Homo sapiens: one gene and its partner. The protein of the gene in region 2 interacts with the protein of the main gene of each other region in a pairwise test. Each region holds a gene or a part of one and is shown on either strand. Other genes may lie near its edges. The genes, in order: NR1I2 and NUCB2.

What was found.
Region 1: the proteins of NUCB2 (region 2) and NR1I2 interact in a two-hybrid assay, tested with the Homo sapiens proteins (one study listed by BioGRID).

The regions. Positions count from the first base shown.
Region 1 is NC_000003.12:119,801,310-119,817,366, reverse strand, and holds part of NR1I2 (nuclear receptor subfamily 1 group I member 2), read right to left. Parts: intron 10,139-16,057; coding exon of another isoform or gene 10,117-10,138; coding exon 9,920-10,116; intron 7,307-9,919; coding exon 7,173-7,306; intron 5,829-7,172; coding exon 5,641-5,828; intron 4,682-5,640; coding exon 4,407-4,681; intron 2,389-4,406; coding exon 2,246-2,388; intron 2,045-2,245; coding exon 1,928-2,044; intron 1,642-1,927; coding exon 1,536-1,641; intron 300-1,535; coding exon 155-299; 3' UTR 1-154. UniProt on the Homo sapiens protein: Nuclear receptor that binds and is activated by variety of endogenous and xenobiotic compounds.
Region 2 is NC_000011.10:17,278,017-17,290,877, reverse strand, and holds part of NUCB2 (nucleobindin-2 isoform 1 preproprotein), read right to left. Parts: intron 8,090-12,861; 5' UTR 7,935-8,089; intron 4,245-7,934; exon of another isoform or gene 4,161-4,244; intron 1-4,160. UniProt on the Homo sapiens protein: Calcium-binding protein which may have a role in calcium homeostasis. Acts as a non-receptor guanine nucleotide exchange factor which binds to and activates guanine nucleotide-binding protein (G-protein) alpha subunit GNAI3.

The DNA of each region.
Region 1 (16,057 bases), on a different chromosome or scaffold from region 2:
GCTAGCCAGCTGTCATAGCAGGAATTCCCTAGGGAGACAGGCCAGCAGGGCATTGTCGGCTCTTGGCAGTGTCCATCTGTCTTGGCCCGGGAGTGGCGGCTCAGAGGGCTCTGGGTCTGGCTGCCTCTCGGAGGTGTCACCCAAGGGCAGCCGCTCAGCTACCTGTGATGCCGAACAACTCCTGCATGAGGGGCGTAGCAAAGGGGTGTATGTCCTGGATGCGCAGCAGCCGCTGGGTGTGCTGAGCATTGATGCTGCGGAGCTCGGTGAGCATAGCCATGATCTTCAGGAACAAGAACCTGCATGCCAGCCAGAGAAAAGATTGTGGGTGCAGCCCGCCCTGACCCACAAGCCTCAGGGCTGCTCTGAGGCTGCACAAGCATAATCTCTGGACATTTCAGGTCAGCCAAGAGACAAGGCTTGGCTGAATTCCGTAAGCTTCTCTTTTACCCTGTAGATGAGAAAGGCAGAACAGCCTGCCCAATACTCTCCCCACTCCCATCCCATTCATGGGAGCTGTGTCTTTTTTTTTTTTTTTTCTTTAAAGGGACAGGATCTCGTTCTGTCACCCAGGCTAGAGCATGATGGCACGATCATGGACTCACTGCAGTGTCAAACTCCTGGACTCAAGAGACCTCCAGCCTCAGCCTCCTGGGTAGCTAGGACTAGAGCACATGCCACCATACCTGGCTAATTTTTTAAAATTTTTCTAGAGTTGGGGTCTGGCTATGTTGCCTAGGCTGGTTTTGAACTCCTGGCCCCAAGGGATCCTCCTGTCTTGACCTCTCAAAGTGCTGGGATTATAGGTGTGAGCCACGACACCCAGCTGCGGGAGTTGCATCTTTGTACACAGAGACTTCCGTGGGAAAATGTAGATATTGCAGCTACCAGTTTGGGGGTGTGGGGCTGTCACTGCCTTCGTTAATGTCCAGGGGCCAGGACTGAGCAGAGTCGTTGTGGAGGTTAGGGGCTGCAGGCTGGAATCCCTTCCTGGAACTAGCTTTGGATCTAGTGTCTGAGATGTACCATATGCCTCAGTATCCCCATGATGGAAAAGAAAGTTGGCACTTCCAGCCTCCTGCCTCCATACAAGGAAGGGTTGAGCAAATAAAGACATGGCCACTCCCAGCATCCCAGGACACCAAGCCAAAAAGAAAGCTGTGCAGGCCAAATAAGGATTTCAGTTTATAGGTTCACACTATAATACTCAGTGTTGGCCTTAACCCTTCATGGCCTTGGGCTCCGTAAAATCCAAGTTTGTCTCTGGGTCTGTGGGCATCAGTCTGGGCAGTAGGTCACAGGAGCTACTGAGGACCAGTGAAGGTATAGAAGCCCCTTTCTGGGCCACGTCCCCCTGTTTGCTTGTGTTTTTCCTGGGAAGTGGTTAGGTAGTGCTCAAAAGTGTGAGCTTTGGACCTGGTCTGGCTGGGGCTACCTCCAGATGCCACCCTCTGGCCATGAAGTCTTGGGCAATTTCCCTGAACCTCGGCTCCCTCACATCACCCTCACGGGTCCTCACCCCCTGCTGTGCTCACCTATGAGCAGGCTGGGGCCGATTGCATTCAATGTAGGACTTCAGAGTAATGGCGAATTGCTCCTGCAGCTGGTCCACCACGCGGTGCTGCAGCACACCTGGGCGGTCTGGAGGGGAGGGAGGTGTGGTGCAAGATCATGGGGCAAAGACAAGCTCAGTCCAGCCCAGAGTCAGGGCATTGCTCGCCAACCACCCTCCAGAGCTGGAGTCACCCAGGCAGGGAAGTGAAGGAAGACCAGGGCTGGGCATCACCCACTGACCCCAGGAGAAACCAGCGAGAGCCCCCATCCTGGCTGCGCAGTGAATGAGGAGCAAGGCCATAGACTGGGACCTTCCCTGGGGAGGGCAGATAAGGCTGGGGGGGATGTCAGGCAGCCTAGGGGAGATCCTCACCTGGGGAGAAGAGGGAGATGGCCTGCATCAGCACATACTCCTCCTCATGCAGCTGCAGCTTCTTCAGCATGTAGTGGAATTTCAGCATGGGCTCCAGTAGAAGTTGCTGGAAGCCACCTGTGGATGGTAACAGGATGGAGGGGCAGCTTCTCAGCAAGCTGACCAAGATCTAATCATCCCTCACCAATATCTTGTTTTCCACCATTCCATCTTCCTGCCCTGCCATCCCAGAACCTGCATATCCTGGCGTAGCTCCCTTCCTCCCATAACTGCAGTGTTTCCCTCCCTCTGCCAGGGCAGGCAGGCTCTCTCGGGCACCTGCAGTGTCTTCCAAGCAGTAGGACAGCCGGCCACACTCCCAGGTTCCAGTCTCCGCGTTGAACACTGTGTTGAATCTCAGTTGACACAGCTCGAAAGCGGCCCCCTTCAGCAGGGAGATCTGGTCCTCGATGGGCAAGTCCCTGGCAGCAAGGATGGGGAGGGGAGGACAGCTCCCTGGGAGGCAGCCCACAGACCGGCACCAGCAGCCATCCCATAATCCAGAAGTTGGGGGCGAGAGGAAGAGGGAGGATGGCTCCTTTCCCTGAGGATGACTGTGGCTGCTGTCTGGCTGCCTCTCATCTCTCCCCTCACAACCCAGCAGACAGCTCTGCCCCGCAGCATCCTCTCCTCCCCTCCAACCTCCGGGAACTCCACCCACTGAGCTTGGCATCCAGGTCCCTTACAGGCTGGCCCCATCTCCTTCAGCTCCTATACAAATCCTGACCTACAGCTAGTGCTTTGGCTTCTGGTCCCTGGCCTCCTCCTTTCTGCCTCAGTTTCCCCCTTGGAATGACTTCCCCTTTAGTATATCCTGCTAGCCCCTCAGGCCATGCTATGTCTTTGCCCCTCTCAGAAGTCTTTCCAGAGTGCAGTCTCCCCTTTCCAGAGTGAAAGTGCCGCCCTTTTGGCCTGAGTTCCAGTAGTGGGGATGTTTGCTTCCTGCTGTCGGTGTTGGGTTTAATGTGCACACATGTATTTCTACTGTTTCCCTGCAGCCCAGATGCCTGAAGCCCCACTCCTAGCGCTGAAGCACAGGCCTAACCATGGAGGCGGCTTAACAAGCCTCTGAGATTATGGTTACATGGATACCCTTCCGGTCCTGCAGGGATCACTCCCTCCCAACCTGGGAGGGGCCCCCACCTCCCCAGTAAGGAGGCATTCCTTACAAGGAGGAAGCTTCACAGCCTGAGAGGGAGGCTGCTTACTCTGGGTTTTGAGGAAACACTACCTCTTGGCCTTGGGAATTCAGACCCTGTGCTACTGGCGCCCATCCTTCTTTTAGATCCCTAACACTGAGCTACAAATGCCATGTAATTGATCTTATTCTTCTGTGCCTCCCCATTGCCCAGCTTAGGACCTGGCATCGAGCTGGCTTTGGTACTTCCAAATCTAGCCTCCACCACTGATTAGCTGTGACCTTGTACAAGTTTCTTATCCTTGGGGAACTTCAGTTTCTATCTGAGAATGAAGATGGCAGTGACACCTCAGGTCACTGTGCTCGACATTGGTGGCCTTGAGAAATAGCAAGTGGGAAGCCCTGGTGTTAAATTGTCAGTCACTGGATTTCACCAAAGATCTCCCAATGTCCACATTTATAAGTATTCTTCTCTCCCTGCCCCTTTAAGCTTATTTGCTACCATCTGAACCCCATTCCAAACCTGCTGTCAGCATCACCCCATTAAATAAGTCACGCATGACTCCTACAGGGCCAGAGAAGAACCTCTGGGCTCCTAGAGTATAACCTACCCTCAACCTGCTGAAGAAACCAGGAGCTTGTGGCAGGTGTGTTTCAGCCCCACTTGACCAGGCTTGGCAAGGCAAGGTGGCCTACCCAAGGACAGATACACCTGGCACCATCCCTAATCCTACGACTGCACACATATTCTGGGGCTGTGGTTCCTGCCACCCCAGGAAGTTCCCATGTCTCCCACTAACCCCAGTTGCCCGATGGTTGTTGCCTCCACATCTAGCTCTGGGGAGACCTGACCCTTGGGCTCTGAGGACCACCCGCCCTCCCCATGGCCTTCACAGCCTTATCTTTTCTATTCCTCTCATTCCTTGCTCTGGAACTGTCAACATGTGATTCCTGCCCCTTTAAGGGAGAGTACAAAAGACTATCTGAATGCCCACTCTGTGCTGGGTGTTCTTCGGATGTGTTCTTATTTCACAGAACAGCCCTGCAGGGGAGGCATTTTTAGCTTCCATTGAGCAGGTGAAGAGGCAGAGACACTGGCAGGCCCACAGCCACAAAACTAACCAGCCATACAGCAAGGGCTCTACTCCCCAGCAGCACTGGCTGCCCGGGGAAAGGGCACAGGAAAAGGAGGGTCTTCTGACACCAATATCCCCCAAATTCAGGATCTACCCCAGGCCCTTTGAACCTCCTGGCCACTTCCAGTTCTTTTCCACACCCAACCACCCAGTCTCCATGTCCTACCTGAAGTAGGAGATGACTTTGGCAAAGCTGATGATGCCTTTGAACATGTAGGTTGACATGTCAGCCATGTGGGGCAGCAGGGAGAAGATCTCTTTCCCGCCACTGTCGGCTGGGGGTTTGTAGTTCCAGACACTGCCATCCTCCCCCCGCAGCTGCAGAGAGACCTTCAAAGAGCACAGATCTTTCCGGACCTGGCTCCACTTGGCAGCTTCTTCCCTCGATGGGGCCTGCAGAGACTCTGGCAACTCGCAGCCACTGCTAAGCACCCCTGGCAGCTAGGACACATGCCAGGAGGTGGACAGAGGAGAGACAGCATGTGCTTTCATAGACAGGTCCCAACTCAGGCCCCAGCCAAACATGCACAGCCACAGTTGCAGCTCGAGAGGATGCACAAATGCAGGCATTCACACCCACATGCATGCGTGTGTCCTCACACATATACACACACAGCATTTGTTTCTTCTCTCTGGTGTTCTCTATCAGATGAAGGTGCTTTGGGGATCTATGAATTAATGGTCACACACATCCCTGCTTGGTTAAAATGGAGGGTAAGGGGGACTGCAACCATGGTGTGTCATCCCAAGCATTCCAGATGTTGGGCTCAGGAGACTCAGAAGGTTTAGGGTGCTATGGATGGGAAGAGCAGATCTGAGGTCACTGGGCTAATCCAGTTATTTGGGCTGTGAAGGGCCACTTGAGATATCTATCAGTGCAAAGGGGAAGGAGGGCACTTAGAGCACAGACATAGTTAATGTGCTGGGATCAAGAAACACCAGTTCACAAAAGTCACACCCCCAACAGGTCCTGATCCTGTCCTCATAAAGCCCCGAATGCCAGCAACACTGGGGAACTGCCTAGCTTTCCCTCCACTTATTGCTTAGACCCAGTTCCTACCTGCCTTAAAGGAGAGAGCAGTGATTTTTCAAACCTGAACCTGCAACAGAATCACCGGGGGGTCCTGCCCCTCCCTGGAGCTTCAGATTCAGGAGATCTGAGGTGACCTGAAAATCTGCATGCTGATGCTGCTGACCCAGGGACCACACTTTCAGAACCTTTGGGAATGAGACTAAGGCTTTGAGGAGCTAGCACAGATGCAGGACCAGCTCTCCAAATCTACCCTCCACCACTGATTAGCTGTGACCTTGTATAAGTTTCTTATCCTTGGGGAACCTCAGTTTCTATGTGAGAATGAAGATGGCAGTGACACCTCGGGTCACTGTGCAGTTCCTCCTACCCGGAAATTCTTGAAATGGGAGAAGGTAGTGTCAAAGGTTTTCATCTGAGCGTCCATCAGCTCCCTGATCATCATCCGCTGCTCCTCTGTCAGCCCCTGCACTCCCAGTGGCTGAGTCCCTGTCCGTTCACTTTTCTTCCGCTTGATCAAGGCCCGCCTCTCCTCCACGGCCTCGTCGGACATGATCACTGCAGGGACAGTGAGGCTGGCTCAGGCACACGTGCCCCTGGTGAGCCTCCAGCCCCCTGGAGAGCCACTGTGTAACCCTCTCAAGGCAGCAGAAGCCGTTAGGCAAAAGAGAAAGTAATGGTGACAAGCAATTCTCCCCTGTCTGGACTCAAGAGGCCTGTGGGCTCTTCTGGAGAAACACTTGGGTGAGGACAGAGATGAGGTGAGGCTGGTGTTTTGCCCTCTGCAGTGGAGTTTGTGAGGACACTGTGGGGCCCTGGCAAGAGCACGGGCTTCAGAATCCAAAGGCGCTGGGTTTGCATGAAAGCTTTGCCACTTACTACCTGTGACCCCAAGCAACCTCCTTAACCTCTCCTGCCTCCAGGTTTCTCCTTTGTGATCCGGAGAAACCGTGTTTACCTCGCACCGCTGTTAAATGAGACCTTGCATGTAGGGTGCCTAATATAGTTCCTGGTACATAAGAGATGTTCAGTAAATGGCATCTACAATTATCATTTTCTGGTGAATTATATACCAAGACTCTTCAGAGGTGTCTGGGTCTCCAAGACCCTAGAGAGCTGGGCTACAGCTTAGCAAGAAATAGCAACTCCAGAGACTTCTTATATAGCCCAGAGCCTTAGGGTCTTCTGTGGATTTCTGGAGCCCACTCATGTGTGTAGAACAAAGCTATGAGGTCCTTGGTGGGGAGAGATCAAGAATGCCTGCCAGCAGCCTAGAGAACTTGTCCTTGAAAGAAGCAGCTTTGGGTCCCTTTGTGTTCCATGGAGACAAATATGCACTAGAAACACCTAGCCTTTTCCGCATGAGCCTTAATCTCATAGTGACCTAGGAGCACAAATATATCAAAGTTAAATAGGTAGAATGAGAACACCTCATGTCACCTGTCTGCAAACAGTTCCCCTATAAAGATCCAGGTCTGGGGCAGCTGATGGGGCTAGCACCTAGAAGGCCCCGGGTCCTATCACCCATGTGGCTCCTGCTTCCCTCCCCCAGATTCACACTCCTACCCGCAAATGTGGTTTCAAACCATTACAACAATTATGAAGGGGACAAAAAGAATGATGCAGGAGCAACTGAGGGGAGACAGAGGGCACGCCCTGTCCAGGGCTGCCCAGCACACATCCCAGGGCAGAGATTACCGACTCCCTCCATCTCCCAGAGGGCCGACTGCAAGCGCTCCCCCAGGTGGCTGCCTGTTGCACACGGACACCAGCTCACATGTGCACGTGTGTTCACGCGCACACTCGGCGCGCATCTCCACACAAGCATGCCCACACCCACGGCACGTCCTTACTCAGAGCCGTGCACCCCGGCGCCGGCCCGCCCGCGCGCCCACTGCTCACTCTCCTTCTTCATGCCGCTCTCCAGGCACTTGCGCAGGCGGCAGGCCTGGCACTGTCGCCGGGTCTTCCGGGTGATCTCGCAGGCGCCCTTCCGGAAGGGGCACCTCAGCCGGGCGTTGCGTTTCATGGCCCTCCTGTGAGAGAATGGGGAGCAGAAGGGGGGATGCACGGGTGCCCGGGCCCTCGGCCTGGGGCTCCGGGCCATACCACCTCCCTCCCCAGCCCCTACCGACTCGGGGAGGGGGACACTAGCCTTTGCGTCCCAGCTGGGTCAGGCTTTATGGGAAGGGTGTAGGTGGGAGTCCCTAGAGGTCCAGGACTCAGCTAGAGGGGGCAGAGCCGGGGAGGAGACCTTTTCTGGCCATTCCGGCAGGAAATGGGACACGTGCTTTTCGCTGGCGCGGGCAGCCCCAAAACCACTTTCAGGGACACTTCCTCTCCAGGCCCATCCTCAGCGCCTTCCCTTCTTCCTGAAACACCTGTCCCCTTCTCTTTCACAGCCTTGTTACCAGAAAGTTTCCATGGAGATGGGCCTCTTCCTCGATTTCCCCTCCTTAAGGGAGGGAGCTGAGGAAACCTGACCCCAGGAGGGTAAGAAACCAGAGAAGCCCGCCCCACCCCCCCGCCTTCCCCCCCGCCTTCCCCCCACCCCCCGCCGCCTTCTCCAGCTCCCCTTCCAGACTGGGCGGCCAGGGAGGAAGGGGTGAACTATGGGGAAGTTCTTATACCCTACGGGGCAGCGACTTCCCCATGGCAGAGTGGATTCCCCTCGTTGACCTAGGGGGCAAAGAGGTCGAGCGCCTGGAACAGCAGAGCGTGCAGGCGGGACCCACGGGCCCGCACACCCCTCTCTGCGGTGCGCAGAGAGGCAATGGGGCAGATGCCTTTTGGAGACTCTGGTACAAGATCTCCTCCTCCCAGCCCGGAAGTCCTGCCTGTCCCACAAAAGACACGGTCAGTGCAGTCCTACCTTTACTTTCCCCATCTCCACAGCTGGATGGAAAGAAACAATCTCTCCCTTGGCTCTGGCCTCTGATTCTGGTCCAGAGTGGAAACTGAGGGAAGGCTGGCCCAGGAGCATGGAACAGCCAGGTAGGGCTGCAGAGGTCCCCGAGGGCAGGCCTGGGAAGCTGAGCCAAGCCCGCAGTGACCTGGCAGGTTTGAGCTTGGAGGCCTCGGGCCTCGGACCAGTGACCAGCCCAGGGGCATGTTCTTCACAGATGCCATCCCTGCCTTTTGCCTTCCCAACTGGCCTGGGTAAGAAAACTCTGATGCTACATCAAAGTCCACTGAGAATGGGTAAAAGATGAAACCGGGGCTCACATTATTTAAAGGTATGCTATGTATCAGATGCTAGGCTAGGTATTTTGCAGTTTTGTAAATTTAGTTCTAAAACCCTGTGAAACTCATAATCTCATCTGCCTAGCACAGATGAGGGAGACTGAGGCTTGGAGACGATGGATCCCCAGCTGTCCTCCAGGTACATGACAAGCTGAAATTTGAATCCAGGTCTGCCTGATACTGGATTTAGCTTTTGCCCACTACAACATGTTGCCTTTTTCTGAGAGTCCCAGGAATAGTACCCAAATGAGGAAGGGAGAGCAGAAGATTCCTGCATGCTGAGGCAGGATGCACGAACACTGCTTGGGCAGCCTCTTCTGTGCCAGCAGCATCTGGAGCTGGTGCAGACATCCACCCTCTTCCACACAGTCAAGTGGCGTGTGCCCAGCTCAGGGACATACCTGCTGCTCTTTGCTAGTGACTAGTTCAGGCATAGGCTGGGCCCGGCTCTAGCCAATGTGAGGGGACTCCTGGGAAAGATTTCCTTACTCTCAAAGATGGGCCTTTGTGCGCTTCTGCTGAACATAATGATTCCTGCCTGGGGCCCCAGCACTGTGCCCCCACAAGGGGAGCCAGACTGCAATCAGAGCTCTCAGGTGGGATGGCTGAAGAGAAAAATGGAAAGAAATGAGCTGCTGAACTCACTAACCTGGAGGCCTTCAGACTTCCTGTTAGGAGAGGTAACACATTTTCCTTATTGCCAAACCAATTGGCGACAAGTGTCCTGTGACTTGTAGCTGAACCCAGTCTGACACTGCTGATGTGTCTCACCCCTGTTATAACTCATGCAACACGAATGTTCATTTCTCCCTGGAACCTGCCCTTTTCCATTTGAATGCCCAGCCACCACGAAGAACTCTGCAAAGGGCTGTCAGGCTGGCTGTCTTGGGAATGCATGAGGGTCCCACATGTGGCTCCCGAGATGGGAGCTGCTCCTTGCATACCCTGTGCCCTCCGGAGGGTGCACCTGGAGTGCTTCCTCACACATGGCTTTCTCCCCTCCCCGCCCTTCCCCTCCCTTCGGTCTGTTTCTCTTCCCATGGTCTAAGCATTTATTTTATGCCATTCTTTATGTAACAACCACCCCAGAAGGCGGATGTGAACACTTGGATTTGGGATTTTCAAATTCCTTATCTTTCACTGAGTCATTTTCCATTTTATTCAAGAGCACATGGAGAAACCAAGGGATATCTTAATGGAAGGAGACCTTTCCTGGGTAGAACAGGAAGACTGAAGATGAAGGATTCCTCTGGGATATAAATGGCTCCCTTGAGACTAATTACAAGGCCTTTGGGTGGGCCACCAGCCCACACTCTGAACCTGGGGGACAGGTCAAGCTGAGGCCCTGAGACGTTACCCAGTGGGTCAGTGGTGGCACGTGGGTGAAGGCTGATGGGTAACTCTACCTGAAAAAGCCCTTGCATCCTTCACATGTCATGACATTGAAGTGATAGCCAGTGGCCTTGTCCCCACATACACGGCAGATTTGGGGACCTCCGACTTCCTCATCTGCGTTGACACTGGGCTTTCCAGGAACAGACTCTGTGTCCTCACAGTGTACAAAGTCAGCATGGTTCCAGCTTTCTTTGGGTCTCACCTCCAGGTTTGCTTCTGGGCCTCTTGGACTAGAAATGAGAAAACCACAGAGAATGAAAAGACTGGACAGGGATGTGTAGAGGCCTCAGAGGAAACACTCTGTCCCTTCTATGCATCACTCACATTTGGGCCTGTGAACTCGGGAGCTGACCTCTCATGGGGAAAAAAAGCGGGGAATGGGGGTTGGAATTGTTATAAAGAGAGCTGTAATCATGACATTTTGTACACAAAAATAGAGCCCTGGAGTAGAACATGTGAACAGGAGCATGGGAAAGATAAGGGTAAGAGGGAGGAAGAAATGAGAAGAAAAGAGAGCAGGCTGTCTGGGTCGGATCATGGAGGCCACAGCTGAGTGGACTGAGGTTAGGAGGCCACAACCTGGCCAGAGGTCTGAATGGGGAGCAGCTCATGGACAGATTACTTGTTCAAGATGATTTCTGGGACTGGGGACATTGAGGGAGGATAGTCTTTCAGGTGGGGTGTGGCCCAAGCTCCCACAGGGAGCTAGAAAGGCTGAGCAGAAAGAGTTTTCAACTAAGTAGCCAGGCAGATGGGGAAAAAGTGGAGGCATGGTGGGCAAGATCACAACATGGGAAGAAAAATGGCCTGTGGTCCCAGCAGAGCTGGGGTCTCAGTGAATATTGAAGAACTTGTGCCTATTAATAGAGCTGTAGCTAAGCATGGTGGCTGATGCCTGTAATCCCGGGGCTTTGGGAGGCTGAGGCAAGAGGATCGCTTGAGCCCAGGAATCTGAGACCAGCCTGGGCAACAAAGTGAGATCTCATCTTTACAAAAAATAAAAAAAAACAGCCAAGATCGATGGTGTGAGCCTATAGTCCCAGCTACTTGGGAAGCTGAGCGGGGAGGATCTCTTGAGCCTGAGGGTTTGAGGCTGCAGTGAGCTAGAATCATGCCAGAGCACTCTAGCCTGGGTGATAAAGTGAGACCTCATCTCTAAAAGAAAGAAAAAAAATTGAGCTGTACTCAAGGATGTCCTCCCCAGGCAACTTCCACCTTGAGAGCATAACTTGAATTCTACTTGGAACAGACACTGAGGATGTTCAGTAGAAATGGGGGATTGTCCTGTTACTACCATCCCCAAAATTCTCTCTAGGCACTGACTGACAAGGGCAGACACCACCACAGATGACGATGCTTTTTCTAATGCCAAAATCGAAACTTTAGTAAAATTCTAACACATAAATTTCTGTTTCCAACATCATGACAGGTGACATCTGACAGTTTCACCTGTAAGAGTAAATAAGGAATTAATCTGTCTCTGACCCTGGCCCTCCATTACACTGTGAATAAAATACATTGACTGGAAACCTGAACTGAACAGGCACAGGGGAAAATCCCTGATTTTTCAAATCATAATCCTGACTTTATGTAGGCTTGCAGACAAAATGTATACTTTAGGTGTTCACAAAAACCTCAAGCCAAAAAGTTGATTTAAGATTTAAAGTGCATTTGGGTTGGTAATTCTCCCAGACACCCAACAGAAATCCTCCTTTTTTTTCTTTTCTTTTCTTTTTTTTTTGGTGGGGGGGAGGGGGGGACCAAGTCTTGCTCTGTCACCCAGGCTGGAGCGCAGTGGCTCCATCTAAGTTCACTGCAACCTCTGCCTCCCGGGCTCAAGCGATTCTCCTGCCTCTGCCTCTTGAGTAGCTGGGACTACAGGCACCCACGACCATGCCCAGCTAATTTTTGTATTTTCAGTAGAGATGGGGTTTCACCATGTTGGTCAGGCTGTTCTCAAACTGCTGACCTCAAGTGATCTGCCCGCCTCAGCCTCCGCCTCAGCCTCCCAAAGTGCTGGGATTACAGGCGTGAGCCACCGCGTCTGGCCAGAAATCCTCCTTTTTGGGGGAACTCACTTTCCACTTTATACCTAGGCACAAATAATCACATATAATTTCAAAGAAATATGAGCAAATACTCAGAAGTCATGAATGAAAAGACTGGCACAGCATGATGAGCAAGAGTCAGCAAAACAAAACAAAACAAAACAAACCAAAAAAACTTCTAGAATTAGACATGAGAAAATGCCCTGAGTTATCAAACACAGAAATGTTTAAATAAACAGTACGAGAGGTTGAAGACATAAACAAAGAATAAACGACCATAAAATTGACCAAGCAGATTTGAAAATGAATAAAAATTTACTGTAAAAATCGGAATAAACAATGACTTCATAAACCAATAATAATAATATCTTGGGAGTTAGGAAAAACAAAATACAACTAAAATATGGATGGATGCAGTAACTAAGGTTCTGTATTGTTGAAGGGAAAAAAAGATGGTAAATCTTAGATTTTGATTAGTAAAGTGTGCTTGTTGAAATGTCTAGGGTTATCATTAAAAGTCCAAAAATAGAATGCATAACTTGGAAGCTAATAGAAAGGAAAAAATGGAAGGAAAAAAGTTCAAAAGAAGGCAATTAGAGAGTTAAGAAACTGAAAGGGTGAGACGAATAGAAAACACAGATGTATGGTAGAAATACCAAATATGGGGCTGGGTGCGGTGGCTCATACCTGTAATCCCAGCACTTTGGGAGGCAGAGGCAGGCAGATCACCTGAGGTTAGGAGTTAGAGACCAGCCTGGCCAACATGGTAAAACCTCACCTCTACTAAAGATACAAAAAGTTAGCCGGAAGTGGTGGCGGGTGCCTATAATCCCAGCTACTTGAGAGACTGAGCCAGGAGAATCGCTCAAACCCAGGAGGCGGAGGCTGCAGTGAGCCGAAATCGCGCCACTGCACTCCAGCCTGGACGATAAGAACAAAACTTCGTCTCAAAAAAAAAAAAAAAAAAATACCAACTATGTTGGTAGTTAAATGTAAATATATTAAATGTAAATATATATGTATATATATATTTTTTGAGACGGAGTCTCGCTCTGTCACCCAGGCTGGAGTGCAGTGGCATGATCTTGGCTCACTGCAAGCTCCACCTCCCAGGTTGACGCCATTCTCCTGCCTCAGCCTCCCGAGTAGCTGGGACTACAGGTGCCTGCCACCACGCCTGGCTAATTTTTTTGTATTTTTTTTAGTAGAGACAGGGTTTCACCATGTTGGCCAGGATGGTCTCGATCTCCTGACCTCGTTATCTGCCCACCTTGGCCTCCCAAAGTGCTGGGATTACAGGCGTGAGCCACCGTGCCTGGCCATTAAATGTAAATATATTAAAAGACACTGTGGGACTGGATGTGGTGGCTCACGCCTGTAATCCCAGCACTTTGGGAGGCTGAGATGGGTGGATCACTTGAGGCCAGGAATTCAGGACTAGCCTGGCCAACGTGGAGAAACCCCATCTCTACCAAAAATACAAAAATTAGCTGAGTGTGGTGGCGCGTGCCTGTAATCCCAGCTACTTGGGAGGCTGAGGCATGAGAATCGCTTGAACCTGGGAGGCAGAGGTTGCAGGGAGACAAGATTACGCTACTGCACTCTAGCCTGGGCAACACAGTGAGACTCTGTCTCAAAAAAAAAAAAAAGTACACTGAGAAAGATGGTTTCAGCAGGTAGCTGCAGCAATCTTAGGTTCAGGATTAGTGTTTTGGGACAGATTTTGTATTAGAGAATATGGGATGGAACAGATACCAAAATGGAAAATAATGATTATTCAGGTCCTTTGTAAAAGGTCACTCATTGTCTTAGTGCATTCAGGTTGCCATAACAAAATATCGGAAACTGAGTGGCTTATAAACAACAGAAATTTATCTCTCATGGTTCTGGAGGCTGAGAAGTCCAAGATTAAGGCACTGGTAGATTCAATGTCTGGTAAGAGCCTGCTTCCTGTCATCTATGGCACTTTCTCCCTCTGTCCTCATATAGTGAAAGGGGCTAGCCAGCTAGCTCTTTGGGTCTCTGGGACCTCTCTATCTCTCTCTCTCTCTCTCTCTCTCTTTTGAGACAGAAAAAAAAAAGAAAGAAAAGAAAAAACTCTGCCACCCAGGCTGGAGTTCAGTGGTGTGATCTCAGCTCATTGCAGCCTCTATCTCCTGGACTCAAGCGATCCTCCAACTCAGCCTCCTGGGACTACAGGTGCATGCCACCATACCCAGCTACTTTTTTTTTTTCATTTTTAGTAGAGGCAGGGTTTCCCCATATTGCCCAGGCTTGTCTGCAACTTCTGGGCTCAAGTGATCACCTGCCTCAGACTCCCAAAGTGCTGGGATTACAGGCATGAGCCACCACACCCGGCCTCTGGGGTCTCATTCATGAGGACACTAACTCAATCATGAGGGTTCTACCCTCATGACCCAATCACCCCCCAAAGTCCCCATCTTCTAAAGCCATCACACTGGGGATGAGGATTTTAACATACGAATTTGGGGGAAACATAAACATTCAGAACATGGCACTCATTTATTCCTCATAACAATCATCATAGCATTTATCATATTGCTCAACAGACATGTGTTGAGCATCTACTACACACCAGATATATTCTGTTATGTATTCCAAATAACTTGGAAGTCACTCTTATGACAAAAACCCAGGGACTTTACATAACCCTCTAACTGTTCACAGACACAAAGAGTGTTCCAAAATCAAAGAGCATCACAGGCAGGCAGAGAAAATGTTATTAGCAGGATAGTATTTCAGAGTGTACATTAGAAGAGACCAACCTCCCTTACATTTTCAGCATCATTCAGGAGCCATGAGGGATAGCAGCACCTGGGGCAATGGAGACAGTTGGCAAAGATTCTGCACATCAATTGTGAACTTTGGACAATTGAAGATGGTGAGATGCTGCTTTCTCGCAATAAATATAAATGCTCTTCCCCATAATGGAAGTGACAAGTACAACATGACTACATGAATCACAGGAGAAGCCCACAGGTGACATGGACCAAGAAGATAAAAGAAATATCACCAAAGGACCAGAAAAAAGACATTTACTTAAATCATGTCTAATTTACACTTTCCCCAATTTCTTAATGAGGAGATAGTAGAATTAATGCTAGAATCTCATTCCGCAGTATTTGTATAACTTTCATTTTGTTTTGCCCAAGTGTTAAGCAAGCCGACTCTGGCACATTCTATAGTTCCTTCTCTCATATGCTTATGAAGCCCCCGCTAGAGAACCCATTACAGCTGTTATCCAAGGTGGCCCCCAGGAGCCATGCCCCGAAAGATTCACACCCTTGTGCAGCCCCCTCCCATAATGAGTCTAGGATGGTCTGTGACTTGCTTAGTTAATAGAATGTGGGGAAGAGACAATTCTGGGTCTACGCTATAAGAAGCCTGGTAGCTTCTGCTTTTGTCTTTGGAGAGCCCTAAGCCACCATGCAACAAAGTCTGGCTACCCTGCTCAGTGACCACCCAAAGAGACCATGCGGAGAGGCCATGTGAAGAGGGAGAGGCCTGAGATCGCACCGATGAGACAGGACCAGCCACCCCAGCCTCCCGGCCGCCCTCACCAAACAGCAGATGTGTGAGTGAGCCCTCTTGGACTCCCCAGCCCAATTATGCCTCCAGGTGACTGCAGCCTTGGCCAAGGTCCTGTGATGCAGAAGAACTCCCCAGCTGAGCCCAGCCAACACAGAAAATCATGTCAGAAAATGAAACAGTGGTGGGTTTAATCCAGTGAGTTTAGGGGAGATTTGTTACACGGCAAGAAATAATGGAAGTGGAACCCCTGGAGTTGGGTTAGAAATAGATCTGAACTGTGGTGATGGGGGAGCCAGCCCAGCAGCTGCAGTCCTGCTCCCATGCCACTCTTCCATCACTGTTCCTTTACAGAATGTTGCCCTCTGGGCAGGAAAATGACAGTGACTGGGTGTCTGAGGTGTGCCAGCTACATCTCTCTTTCATGCAAATTTAGGGAGACCAATTAGATGTGTACTTTTAACTGAATACAACTGTGTTTGCTTCTGAGGGCTCCACCTGCTTCTCACGGTGCTTAGTAATCGGTGAAATCTCATCAGAAGAAGGTTGAAA
Region 2 (12,861 bases):
AATCCAAGTTTATAAAATGTGAAAAATTTTAAAAATACAATTCATGAACCACTATTCACCTTCTACACTAGTCATGCTTATAATTTTTCAAAATTATCCCATTTTCTATGTTCTCAATGATTTTTGTTTGCTTGTTCTACAATCACTAGAAAAGCACATGAAAATCTTATATCATGATTTTGTCTCTTTTTCCTTATAATTCTGTTAATTTTTATTCAAATATTAGGTATATATATATAAACTTAAGATTTTCTAGCTTTACAGTAAATTTAATCTTTTATCTCATGACTGACCTTTATATCCCAACCATATTAGTATTTTTTTTATTGTTTTTTGAGACAGGGTCTCAACATGTTGCCCAGGCCAGTCTCAAACTCTTGGGCTCAAGCAATCCTCTTGCCTCAGCCTCCCAAAGTGCTGGGATTAGAGGCATAAGCTACTATACCCAGCCTCAATTAATGGAATATGAAAATTGTAATTAGCCACATAGCAACAGCAACATAGTCTTTGTTATGTGTACATGCATGAACTTTATTATAGTTATTATTATTGTCATAACTTCAGATTGAGTTTTTGCATTGTTGGTGCTTGTCATTGTAAATATCTTCATAAACATTAAGCTATGATTTGGCATTAAAATGAAAAGTTATTTTGTAAGCACAGAAACAAAGCAGCTGATGTTAGTGAAGCAAATACTTGATATTAGGGGAATAACAGCAATTTTACTCTTTCTTATAAAGGAACAACTAGTGCTTTACCTGACTCTAGACAGGAAGATACCTGCAAGTAGACAAAGCCATGTTACGTTTTGTTAGTAAAACACAACAGGATTACCTATCAGCAGCCAAACAATGCAAATGAAGATAGCAGAAACCAACTATGCCTCCAATAAATAAAAAAACTCAAGGAACATGAGGCTGAATTGATGGACTCATGCAAATGTCAATTTGTCAGGAACTTCCTGAAAATACTGAACAGAAGCTGCACAACTTCCAGCAAAGTATAGTTTAAGGAAAAAATAAAGCTGAGTTTAGTCAACAGGAAATTCTGACAAAATCCTGATGTTCTTTTACATGCCTCAAAATCTACATTAATGCTAAAGGTGGTAAAAAGATTGATACGAGAATGGTCAGAAAATAACAAATCACTGTAACATTGCTGTAAATGCCTACAGCCAAAAGTTGTTGCCATATTAAACATTAAATTATAAAATGATTTCCCCCAAGATGTTATATTAAGCATTTTTAAGAAGTATGGGGTTGATGGATGGTGGCTGAGCTAAAGGAAGAGTAGCTAAATCTGATTTGAATGTTGAAGAGCACTACATAACCTGACAAGTGTGTTTATTAGTTTAGTTCTTGATACATTCTGAGAGCGTGTATCTGAATAAAGAATAGGTTGCCTGAAAAGTAATACAAGTTGGTGTGATTCATGAAGGCCAGCCCTCCAGGTCTTCATCAATGAATCATTTAAGGAGAGTTTGAGGAAAGACTATGAATCTGAAAACTTCCTGTCATCATCTTCTGATAAGATGAAGAAAGCACCAGCACCAAGCTTGTAAAGCTTGTAAAATTAATATAGGGTGCTTGGAAGAAAATCTCTAGCAAAAGGGTATGAAGAGGCTGGGCGTGGTGGCTCACGCCTGTAATGCCAGCACTTTGGGAGGCCAAGGCAGGCAGATTGGTTGAGGTTAGGAGTTCAAGACCAACCTGGCCAACATGATGAAACCCTGTCTCTACTAAAAATACAAAAAATTAGCCGGGCATGGTGGCACACGCCTGTAGTCCTAGCTACTCAGGAGGCTGAGGCAGGAGAATCTCCTGAACCTGGGAGGCAAAGGTTGCAGTGAGCGAGACTGCACCAGTGTATTCCAACCTGGGCAACAGAGCAAAACTCCATCTCAAAAAAAAAAAATATATATATATATGTGTGTGTGTGTGTGTGTGTGTGTGTGTGTGTGTGTGTGTGTGTGTGTGTGTGTGTGTGTGTGTGTGTATATACATGTTATTAAATAGACTTTAAGGGCCAGGCACGGTGGCTCATGCCTGTAATCCCAACACTTTGGGAGGCTGAGGTGGGTGGATCACCATAGGTCAGGGGTTTGCAACCAGCCTGGCCAACATGGCGAAACCCCATCTCTACTAAAAATATGAAAATTAGCCTGGAGAGGTGGCGCATGCCTGTAGTCCCAGCTACCCGGGAGGCTGAGGCAGGAGAATGGCTTGAACCTAGGAGGCAGAGGTTGCAGTTGCAGTGAGCCAAGATTGTGCCACTGCACTCCAGTCTGGGCAACAGAATGAGACTGTCTCAAAAAAAAAAAAAAAAGAAGAAGAAGAAGAAGAAGAAAAAGATAAAATAAAATAAATAGGCTTTAAGATTCCATTGGGCTGGGTGCAGTGGCTTGCACCTGTAATCCCAGCTATTCAGGAAGCTGAGGTAAGAAGACTGCTTGAACCCAGGAGTTCTAGGCTGCAGGGAGCTATGATTGTGCCACCTTACTCCAGCCTGGGTGACAGAGACCTCAGGGTGGGATAAAAGATTCCATCGATATTAAGACACACCATTGTATACTATATAGAAAAAAATGCTGCCAATTAAATTACACCACCGTGCTTTTTCACTTACAATTCTATCTTATGTTTGCTGAAAGTATTTTTAGGCATATCATAGATTTTTCTCACATCATTTTTATGCACACATAAAGAAATTAAACGAAATAAATTGATAAAGGTATTCTAAGGACTTCTTCACCTTTGTAGTCCAAGTATTTTTAAACACTTTCTTGAATTGTTACCTTTTGTGTTTTCCCATACAACACTGTTCTCTCTACCGGGGAGAGGAATGGTGATTTCTTCAAGCCATTTTTGTTTTTTGTTTTTTGAGACAGAGTCTCACTCTACTGCCCGTGCTGGAGTGCAGTGCCGCGATCTCGGATCACTGCAACCTCCACCTCCTGGGTTCAAGCGATTCCTGCCTCAGCCTCCCAAGTAGCTGGGATTACAGGTGGGTACCACCACACCCGGCTAATTTTTGTATTTTTAGTAGAGATTGGGTTTCACCATGTTGGCCAAGGTGGTCTCAAACTCCTGACCTCAAGTGATCCATGCAACTTGGCCTCCCAAAGTGCTGGGATTACAGGAGTGAGCCACCACATCTAGCCCTTAAAGTTGATTTAATAACGTATCTTTTTTTTTTTTTTTTTTTTGAGGTGGAGTTTTGCTCTGTTGCCCAGGCTAGAATGCAGTGGTGCAATCTTGGCTCACTGCAGCCTTCACTTCCCAGGTTCAAGCGATTCTCCTGCCTCAGCCTCCTGAGTAGCTAGGACTACAAGTGTGCGCCACCATGCCCTGCTAATTTTTTGTATTTTTAGTAGAGACAGGGTTTTGTCATGTTGGCCAGGCTGGTCTCAAATTCCTAACCTCAACCAATCTGCCCACCTCAGCCTCCCAAAGTGCCGAGATTACAGGTGTGAGCCACCACGCCCGGCCTTAATACCATATCTTGATTTTTAAATCTACCACCTTCTATAGGGCTTTTTTGTTTTTTGAGACAGGTTCTCATTCTGCCACCCAGGCTGAAGTGCAGTGGTGAGCTCACAGCTCACTGCAAATTTGATTTCCTGGGCTCAAGAGATCCTCTTGCCTCAGCTTCTCAAGTAGCTGGGACCACAAGCAAGCCACCATGCGTGGTGATATATATATATATTTTTTTTTGGTAGAGTTGTGGTTTCATTATGTTGCTCAGGCTGGTAGGGCTTTCTATTTATCCTACCTCTTTAACATTTATTTCCTCTCCTTTCTTGCCTTTTAAATTTATTTTTGATTGATGGAGAATGTTTTCTACTAGTTTCTAATCTGTTAGTGCTTATTCTAGACATAACTAGGACAATTAATTTAAACACTGACTCTAATTCTTAATAAGGCCTCCATAAACATCAACTGTATTTAAAAAAAAAATGGTAAGTATTCCAGCACATTAGGCAGAAAAATAATGACACAAAAGTCTCTTTAAATGCCAAGATGTCAAATGTGTCTGCATTAAAGGAATAACAGCAAATTTACTAGGTTTACAGATTTTCATGAATGAGAAAATATACAAATATCCATATAGAAGAAAGAGATGAGTGATAAGGACAGGCAATAGGAAGAAGGAGAACTAACCTACTTTTCTTCCACTATCAGGTCAGTAAGAATGGCCTTCTCCTTTCCTTTATCACCCTCTTCTTTCATAAGAGAGATACGGACCTAAAGAGGAGACACTGGGCTGAACCAGGCTGAAACAGTAGACTCATCCAAACCAGGACAGGCTGATAATTTACTCTCTAAAGTAGGATGGTGTGAAATTCTAAATTATGTAGTCATCTCAAGACAGAATGGGAGGCACTGACCCCAAAGGCATCAGAGCCTCTGGTAAAATTACAAAGTAAGCAGAGTTCTTAAGCTTCTCTTAGTATTCAGTAGATATAATTTCCTTAAATTTTAAAGTCCTAAAAGAAAGCTAATCTCTCTTCCCCTGTCTCAACCAAGTCAAAATTTCTATTCTGCTGGGCACGGAGGTTCCTGCCTATAATCCCAGCACTTTGTGAGGACAAGGAGGGTGGATTCCTTGAGCCCAGGAGTTCAAGACCAGCCTGAGCAATATGGTGAAACCTCTGTCTCTACAAAAAATACAAAAATTAGTTGGGCATGGTGGCACATGCCTGTAGTCCCAGCTACTTGGTGGGGGATGAGGTGGGAAGATCACCTGAGCCCAGCAGGTTGAGGCTGCAGTGAGCCATGGTCACGCCACAGCACTCTAGCCAGGGTGACAGAGTGAGAACATGTCTCAAAAAATAAAATTTCCATTCATACACAGAGGCAGATTTCTTAGCTACTGATTTATACCCATAGTTATACAGATTAAGTTTGCTTTGTGTGTGTGTGTGTGTGTGTGTGTGTGTGTGTACGCACACGTGCGCGCATGTATGTGTGATGGTTTCCTGTTTTGATTGTTGGGCAAGATATCCTGGAAGTGGTTAAAAAAAATTACCATAGATAACCAGGGTGAAAAGTACAGAAAACTGAAAATTTTCTCTTTCCTTGGAAGTAGTCTCTGTTCCTCCTTTATATATCTTTTTTTTTTTTTTTTTTTTTTTGAGACGGAGTCTCACTCTGTCACCCAGGCTGGAGTGCAGTGGCGCGATCTTGGCTCACTGCAAACTCCGCCTCCCGGGTTCACACCATTCTCCTGCCTCAGCCTCCTGAGTAGCTGGGACTACAGGTGCCCGCCACCACGCCCAGCTAATTTTTTTTTTTTTTTTTTGAGACAGTGTCTCGCTCTGTTGCACAGGCTGGAGTGCAGTAGTGCAATCTCAGCTCACTGCAACCTCCGCCTCCTGGGTTTAAGCAATTCTCCTGCCTCAGCCTCCTAAGTAGCTGGGACTACAGGCGCATGCCACCATGCCTGGCTAATTTTTTGTGTTTTTTTTAGTAAAGACAGGGTTTCACCATGTTGTCCAGGCTGGTCTCGATCTCTTGACCTCGTGATCCGCCCGCCTCGGCCTCCCAAAGTGCTGGGATTATAGGCGTGAGCCACCTCACCCAGCCACGCCCGGCTAATTTTTTTGTATGTTTTTAGTAGAGACGGGGTTTCACCATGTTAGCCAGGATGGTCTTGATCTCCTGACCTTGTGATCTGCCCGCCTTGGCCTCCCAAAGTGCTGGGATTACAGGCATGAGCCACCGCGCCCAGCCTCTTTTATGTATCTTTTTCCATCTTCCTCAACCCTCTTCTTTTGCCCCTCTTCCTTTTCAATTAATGGCTGAATTGAAGCATGTTTCCTTTAACCTATTATAAGTATGTATGTATGTATGTATGTATGTATTGAGACTTTGTTTCTAAAAACAAAACTAAACTAATATTTATGTATTAAGTAATGACTATGGTACCAGATACTATGCTAGAAGACAAAGGTAAGCGAGATCGACATAGTCCTTACCCTCACAGGGCTTCAATCTAGTGAGGAAGGTAAGCTATTAAATACAATTGCAATTTTTAAAATGCTGCTTACAAAACAATGCATAGCATGATACTTTTCTGTTAATTAAAAAAAATTAAAAGTCATGAAAATGGTATTCACCAAACAGACATTCTCAGTCAGGTGATTTATAACGTTAAATGTCTCTTAAAAACTGGGTTGTTTTTATGGTCACAAGTCTCCTGATTATTTTGTTTGAGGTCAACAAGTCTAGATCAGAAAAAAGGAAACTGCAATACTAGCAGCAAAAGAACTACTGTACTTTGTGCCTATCTAATACAACCAAAAAATGTAAAAACTTTCAAAAATACAAATATACTGTGTAGAAATAAAATCTTAACTTACTGTCTCCCTTCTAAAAACTCTAAAAGATTGACTGAATCTTTAGAATCTTTCTCACTCCAATTTCCATTCCCTGAATTTCTTTTTCTCAAAGCTATTTATTTCAGTTTACTTTTGAAATAGAAATAATGACAATTGAACCATTTTGCAGGACAAGTATAGGGTATATTTATATAATATTCACAAAGAAAAGTCTGGAAGGGGCTGGGCACGGTGGCTCACTCCTGTAATCCCATCACTGTAGGGGGCTGAGGCAGGCAGATCACCTGAGGTCAGGAGTTCAAGACCACCCTGGCCAACATGGTGAGACCCCATCTCTACTAAAAATACAAAAATTAGTTGGGTGTGGTGGTGGATGCCTGTAGTCCCAGCTACTGAGGAGGCTGAGGCAGGAGAATCGCTTGAACATAGGAGGCAGAGGTTGCACTAAGCCATTGCACTCCAGCGTGGGTGAAAGAGTGAGACTCCGTCTCAACAAAAAAAATAAAAGTCTGGAAGGAAATAAAATATTGGTGTGGCTAAATAAGTTAAGCAAGAACTAGTAGTAAGAGAAAATTTCAAGACAACTAACAGTTAAGTGGTTAAAAAAAGAAGAAAGGAAAGAAAAAGAACAAACTACTTTTAGCTAGCAAGGAAGGCAAGTGTTCCTCATGTGACCATAGTGAAATGTATCTTGAGATGAATTATATTTACTTTCAATATAAATTTACTTCCTGATGATTAGTTATGTGATACCCTTGGGATAACTTATCTCTGTCATTTTAGTGCCTTGATTATAGCAAGTAGCTCAATAAATGTTAGCTCTTTTTAACACAACCATAAAATGTACAACAAACATCTATTGAGCATTTATGGGTAATTTTAAAAAATAACCAGAACAAATCCACAAATAAGACAGAAAAGCTTCTATAATGAATTAAGGGCTAAAAGTAAAAACAGAAACACAATTTATTACATGAAGATTATTTCCTTCTGTAGTTAATAGTCAGACTTATATCTCTGCCATGGCAAATTATAGAAGCTTCTATGAGTGGTTATCACAGCTTACAGATTTCAGAGCTGAAAGATAAAAAGATTCATATCATGGCAGACACTTCTATTTGCTTGCCAATATCCAAATCTTTCCTTCCTTCTCAGTAACAAAAGCCCAATTTTATAGAGGGCAGACATGCAGTCAGCTACATTTCCCTGCTTTCTTATAGCCTCAGCCTTGGTTCAGGAATTCTCCTTAAAGGAAGAGGATGCATCTTTCTTCGCCTATGCTTTGCTGCCTGGAACATGACAGTGATGGTTAGAGCTCTGGCAGCTATCTTGGACATACAAGAACCAGTACTACAAGAATGTCTTAGGGATCACTGATAAAAGAACTGAAAGAAGCTTAAGTCTCTGATGACTTTATAAAGCCACTATACCCATCCTAGAGTGCTATTTCAATTATTATTTTATATAAAAAATAAATATTGCATGTTTAAGCCATCTGTGAGTTCGTTTTTGGTTTTTCCTTTTTTGTATTTTGGTGGTGGTGGTAGTGATAGTCATGTTTCTTTGCAACCAAATGCAATTATTGAGTACTTACGTTCAGGCAGGTAAATAATTTTTATCTCCTTTTTACAGATGAGACAACTGAGATCCAGAGAGGTAAGATGACTTGCACAATACCAAAATAGTGAAGAGATGGGTCTTGGCTCCTAGCTCAATGTTTTTTCACTAAAAACTGACTCGTAACACGTTCTAAATGTAAAAAAAAATAAAAATAAATAAATAAAAGACACAAAATCACAAAATTTAGACTTTTTACAGTGGTAATGGTACATGATAGTGTATGCATTTGTCACATAATGTGAAAAGTGCCAAATTTTTATGATGTGGAAGGAGACTAAATTATATCATATTCCATTAAGGAGGGGAGAAAGATACATGAAATAAACAGAATCAAAAACCGGAATAAACAAAGATGTTGGCCGGGCACGGTGGCTCCTGCTTGTAATCCCAGCACTTTGGGAGGCCGAGGTGGAGAGATCACCTGAGGTCAGGAGTTCAAGATCAGCCTGCCCAATGTGGTAAAACCCCATCTCTACTAAACAAATACAAAAATTAGCCGGGCATAGTGGCAGGTGCCTGTAGTTCCAGCTATTCAAGAGGCTTAGGCACAAGAATCGCTTAAACCTGGGAAGCAGAGGTTGCAGTGAACCGAAATGATGCCACTGCACTCCAGCCTGGGTGACAGAGCGAGACTCTGTCTTGGGAAAAAAAAAAAAAAATATATATATATATATATATATAGATAGATAGATAGATAGATATAGATATAGATATATAGATATAGATATAGATTTATTATGCCCAAATTTTCCTGTATTCCTCCACTCTTGAATAACTAGGAGGAATTCAGATTAAAAGCTTATTTTTTTCAGCAATGAGACTTCAAGATATAGGGCAACTTTTCCTGTTAAATCCTTAACTGGAATTTTTCTTTACTCTTACCACCAATTTAAAAAAATTAACTTTGTTCCTAGTTTGTCACAGAGATCAGTAATAAGATGAAATATTTCAAATTCTTTTTTGAAACCCCACCAAATAACATGTAAAACATAAATCAGCTCATGTGCAAACTCATTAGTAAACATAAGCAGTTATTTCTAAGTAGTCTGTTAAAAAAAAAAGCAAATAAAATATTTTCAAATTTTAAGGAGACATGTATTTCTTGTTTTACATATGGTATATTTAACATAAAATAATCTATGCAGGAGAGTAATCACATGCATGTTGTATTTTGGAAAGTTATATGACTTTTATTGACACAACATGGTAAAAAATAAACACACAAACAGGAGATTAAATCCTAACTTCCCCCATTTACTCGCAAGCTACTTGCCTCTGAGTCTTGATTTTCCTACCTAGAAAACTGAGCTCATACCTCTTCACAGGTTTGTTGATGCGAGGAAAATAAGAATGAATACAAAGTAACCAGCACAGTGCATGACAATGGTAATTGCTCAATAAATATTAATGCCCTTCTTGTCTTGAAAAGGAAACATAAAGAAATATGAAAATCTGTTCTGTAAACACCCAAAGTGGTAGAACTTAAAAAGCAAGACCAGGTTGGGCATGGTGGCTCACACCTATAATCCCAGCACTTTGAAAGGCTGAGGCGGGTGGATCACTTGAGCCCAGGAGTTCAAAACAAGCCTGGGCAACATGGTGAAACCCCACCTCTACAAAAAAAAATCAAAAAATTAGCTGGGTGTAGTGGTGTGCACCTGTAGTCCCAGCTACTCAGGAAGCTGAGATGGGAGGGTTGCTTGAGCCCAGGAGGTCGAGCCATGCATACCAATGTACTCCAGCCTGGATGACAGAGAAAGACCCTGTCTAAAAAAAATAAATAAAATAAATAAATAAAAATTAACGACACAAAAAGCAAGCAAGACCAGTTTGACATACAACTTTAAAAGTAATTTTTGTTTTCGTTTTTGTTTTTTGAGACAGGGTCTGACTCTACCACCCAGGCTGGAGTACATTGGCGCTATTTCAGCTCATCAAAACCTCCACCTCCCAGGCTCAAGCCATCCTTCCGCCTCAGCCTCCAGAGTAGCTGGAACTACAGGCACGCACCACCACGCCCAGCTAGTTTTTAATATTTTTGGTAGAGATGGGATTTCACCATGTTGCCCAGGCTGGTCTCAAACCTGTGAGCTCAAGTGATCTGCTCACCTTAGCCTCCCAAAGTCCAAGGATTACAGGCCTGAGCCATCATGCCCGGTCTTACAGTCATTTTTGAAAGGCCACATTAGAGCTCTTCTCTGAACATTGCCAGAACCAAAGTCCTGATGCAATCATAGACCAATGAAAGCAATGCATCCAACATAATCTCTTCCTTCCAACCTTAAATCAGAACTGTAGCAAGAGACTCAGGTTTCCTTCTCTAAGACACTGCCTTGAGCTAGGAAACGTGGATTGCTTCTTCTTACTATCAATGTCACAAATCTAATGATGAAACAGGGTAGGGTGAAGAAAAATAAACGGCTTTTGAGTTTCTCCATGGCACCAGTTTCAAAGGCCACAGATAACCTGGTGCTCACCTCCATTTTCCCTTTGAAAATGAAAGTCAACAGGAAAGTGAGGTTCAAATAAAATATCAAGTGTATGACCAGCTGAGTTGGACTCCAGCTTTTCCCTGATCAAGACATTAGTATAGATCTTAGAGCCTCTGTTGTCTACATCTGTAGAAAAGGACACTCATCAATGAAACTATTATATCTCCTTTTTTTCCAGTCTTAACAACGGATTGGAGTATCCTAGATTATAGGCTTATGAAAAACAGATCTGTATCACTCAATAAACATATTATTAAAATTATAATCTCTTTATTATTTACATATACTGTACTTCAGATAATTAAAATACACTGCCAAAAAAAACTCTGCCAAGGCCAGGTGTAGTGGCTCATGCCTGTAATTCCAGCACTTTGGGAGGCCAAGACAGGCAGATCGCTTGAGCCTAGAAGTTTGAGACCAGCCTGGACAACATGGCGAGGCCTCTTCTCTACAAAAAAATACTTAAAAATTAGCAGGGTGTGGTGGCATGCTCCTTTAGTCCTAGCTACTCAGGAGGCTGAGGTAGGAGGATCACTTGAGCCTGGCAGTTCCAGGCTGCAGTGAGCCATGATCACACCACTGTACTCCAGTCAGCCTGGGCAACAGAGTGAGGCCCTGTCTCAAAAAAAAAAAAAAAAAAAAAAAATGCTCTGCCAAAAATAAAATCAAGTAACTACTATCTGAACTTCTATTAGGCTGCTTTAGGATTTTAGAATCAGAGAATTCTAAGATCAGAAATAATCTTGGAGGTACAGTAGTCCTCCCTAATCTGCGATTTCACTTTCTGCAGTTTCAATTACCTGAGGTAAAACAAGATATTTTGAAAGATCACATTCATATAACTTTCATTTCAGTGTATTACTGTTATTCATTTTATTATTATGTATGTATAGCAAAAAACATAGCGTATATAAGGGTTGGTACTACCTGTAGTTTCAGGCATCCATTGGGACCCTTGGAACATATCCCTCTAGGATAAAGGAGGACTACTGTAATCTAATTCAGCCCTACTTTTATAAAAGGTTATAAATACAGAAGGAAGTTAACTGACTTGGCCAAGTTCGTTTGGCAGAGCCCGTACTGGAATCTGGCCATGAAATTCTAACTAAGTATACTTTTCACCACATCATGGTTGTAAAAAAAATTTTTGATTGGAAATAATGAAAGTGATTGAAGTTTTTCCTTGAATAAATTATTTGAAATTGTTAGTAGCCTGTTTTTTGTTTTGTTTTTGAGACGTAGTTTCACTCTAGTTGCCCAGGCTGGAGTGCAATAGCGCGATCTCGGCTCACTGCAACCTCCGCCTCCAGGTTCAAGCGATTCCCCTGCTCCAGCCTCCTGAGTAGTTGAGATTACAGATGCCCGCCACTACGTCTGGCTAATTTTTGTATTTTTAGTAAAGACGGGGTTTCACCATGTTGGCCAGGCTGGTCTTGAACTCCTGGACTCAAGTGATCCACCCGCCTCAGCCTCCCAAAGTGCTGGGATTACAGGCATTAGCCACCATGCCCGGCCTAAAGGATTATTTTCAATACATTTTTAAATCCTGCACTTGCTTCTGCCAGCTACCCAGTACTCAAAAGGGTATTTTGTAGAACCCAGCCTTCAAAAGGGTCCTTAGAAAGTGGAAAGTAATTTACATATTATTCTAAGTAATGCAAAATTAGTTTAGTATGTGTTCAGAGATTAATAACATATCCCAAAACAAAAAAGACATCTGAATTGATGTTATTGATATTAGTGCCCATAATTAGTTGTGTCTTGAAAAGTACCTTAATTGTCTTAATTGTGCATTTTATCTCAACTGTTATTCACAGAGCGCAAACCAACTTGGCAAAAAGCATGCTGAAAGAATATATACAAAATACGTGATATGAACAATATGTACCTTGGGAGAGCAAAGAAAGGTAAACACAACATAGACAGATTCGACTCTTAGAACATGGGTCGTCCAGGCACGGTGGCTCACACCTGTAATCTCAGCACTTTGGGAGGCCAAGGCAAGTGGATCACCTGAGGTCAGGAGTTCGAGACCAGCCTGGCCAACATGGTGAAACTTCGTCTCTAATAAAAATACAAAAAATTAGCTGGCTGTGGTGGTGGGTCCCTGTAATCCCAGCTACTCGATGGGCTGAGGTAGGAGAATCCCTTGAACCCGGGAGGCGGAGGCTGCAGTGAGCTGAGATCGGGCCATTGCACTCCAGCCTGGGTGACAGAGTGAGACTCCATCTCAAAAAAAAAAAAAAAAAAAAAAAGATGGGTAAAATTTGGATAGAGAAGAGCATGAGTAAACACACGGAGACAGAAATAAATTTTTGCCTCCTTTAAGTTTCTAAAATTGTCTAGTTAAAAAAAAAATTTGACCCCCTACTACAAAGGTAGATGAGATCATGGAAAGCTTGAAGACCA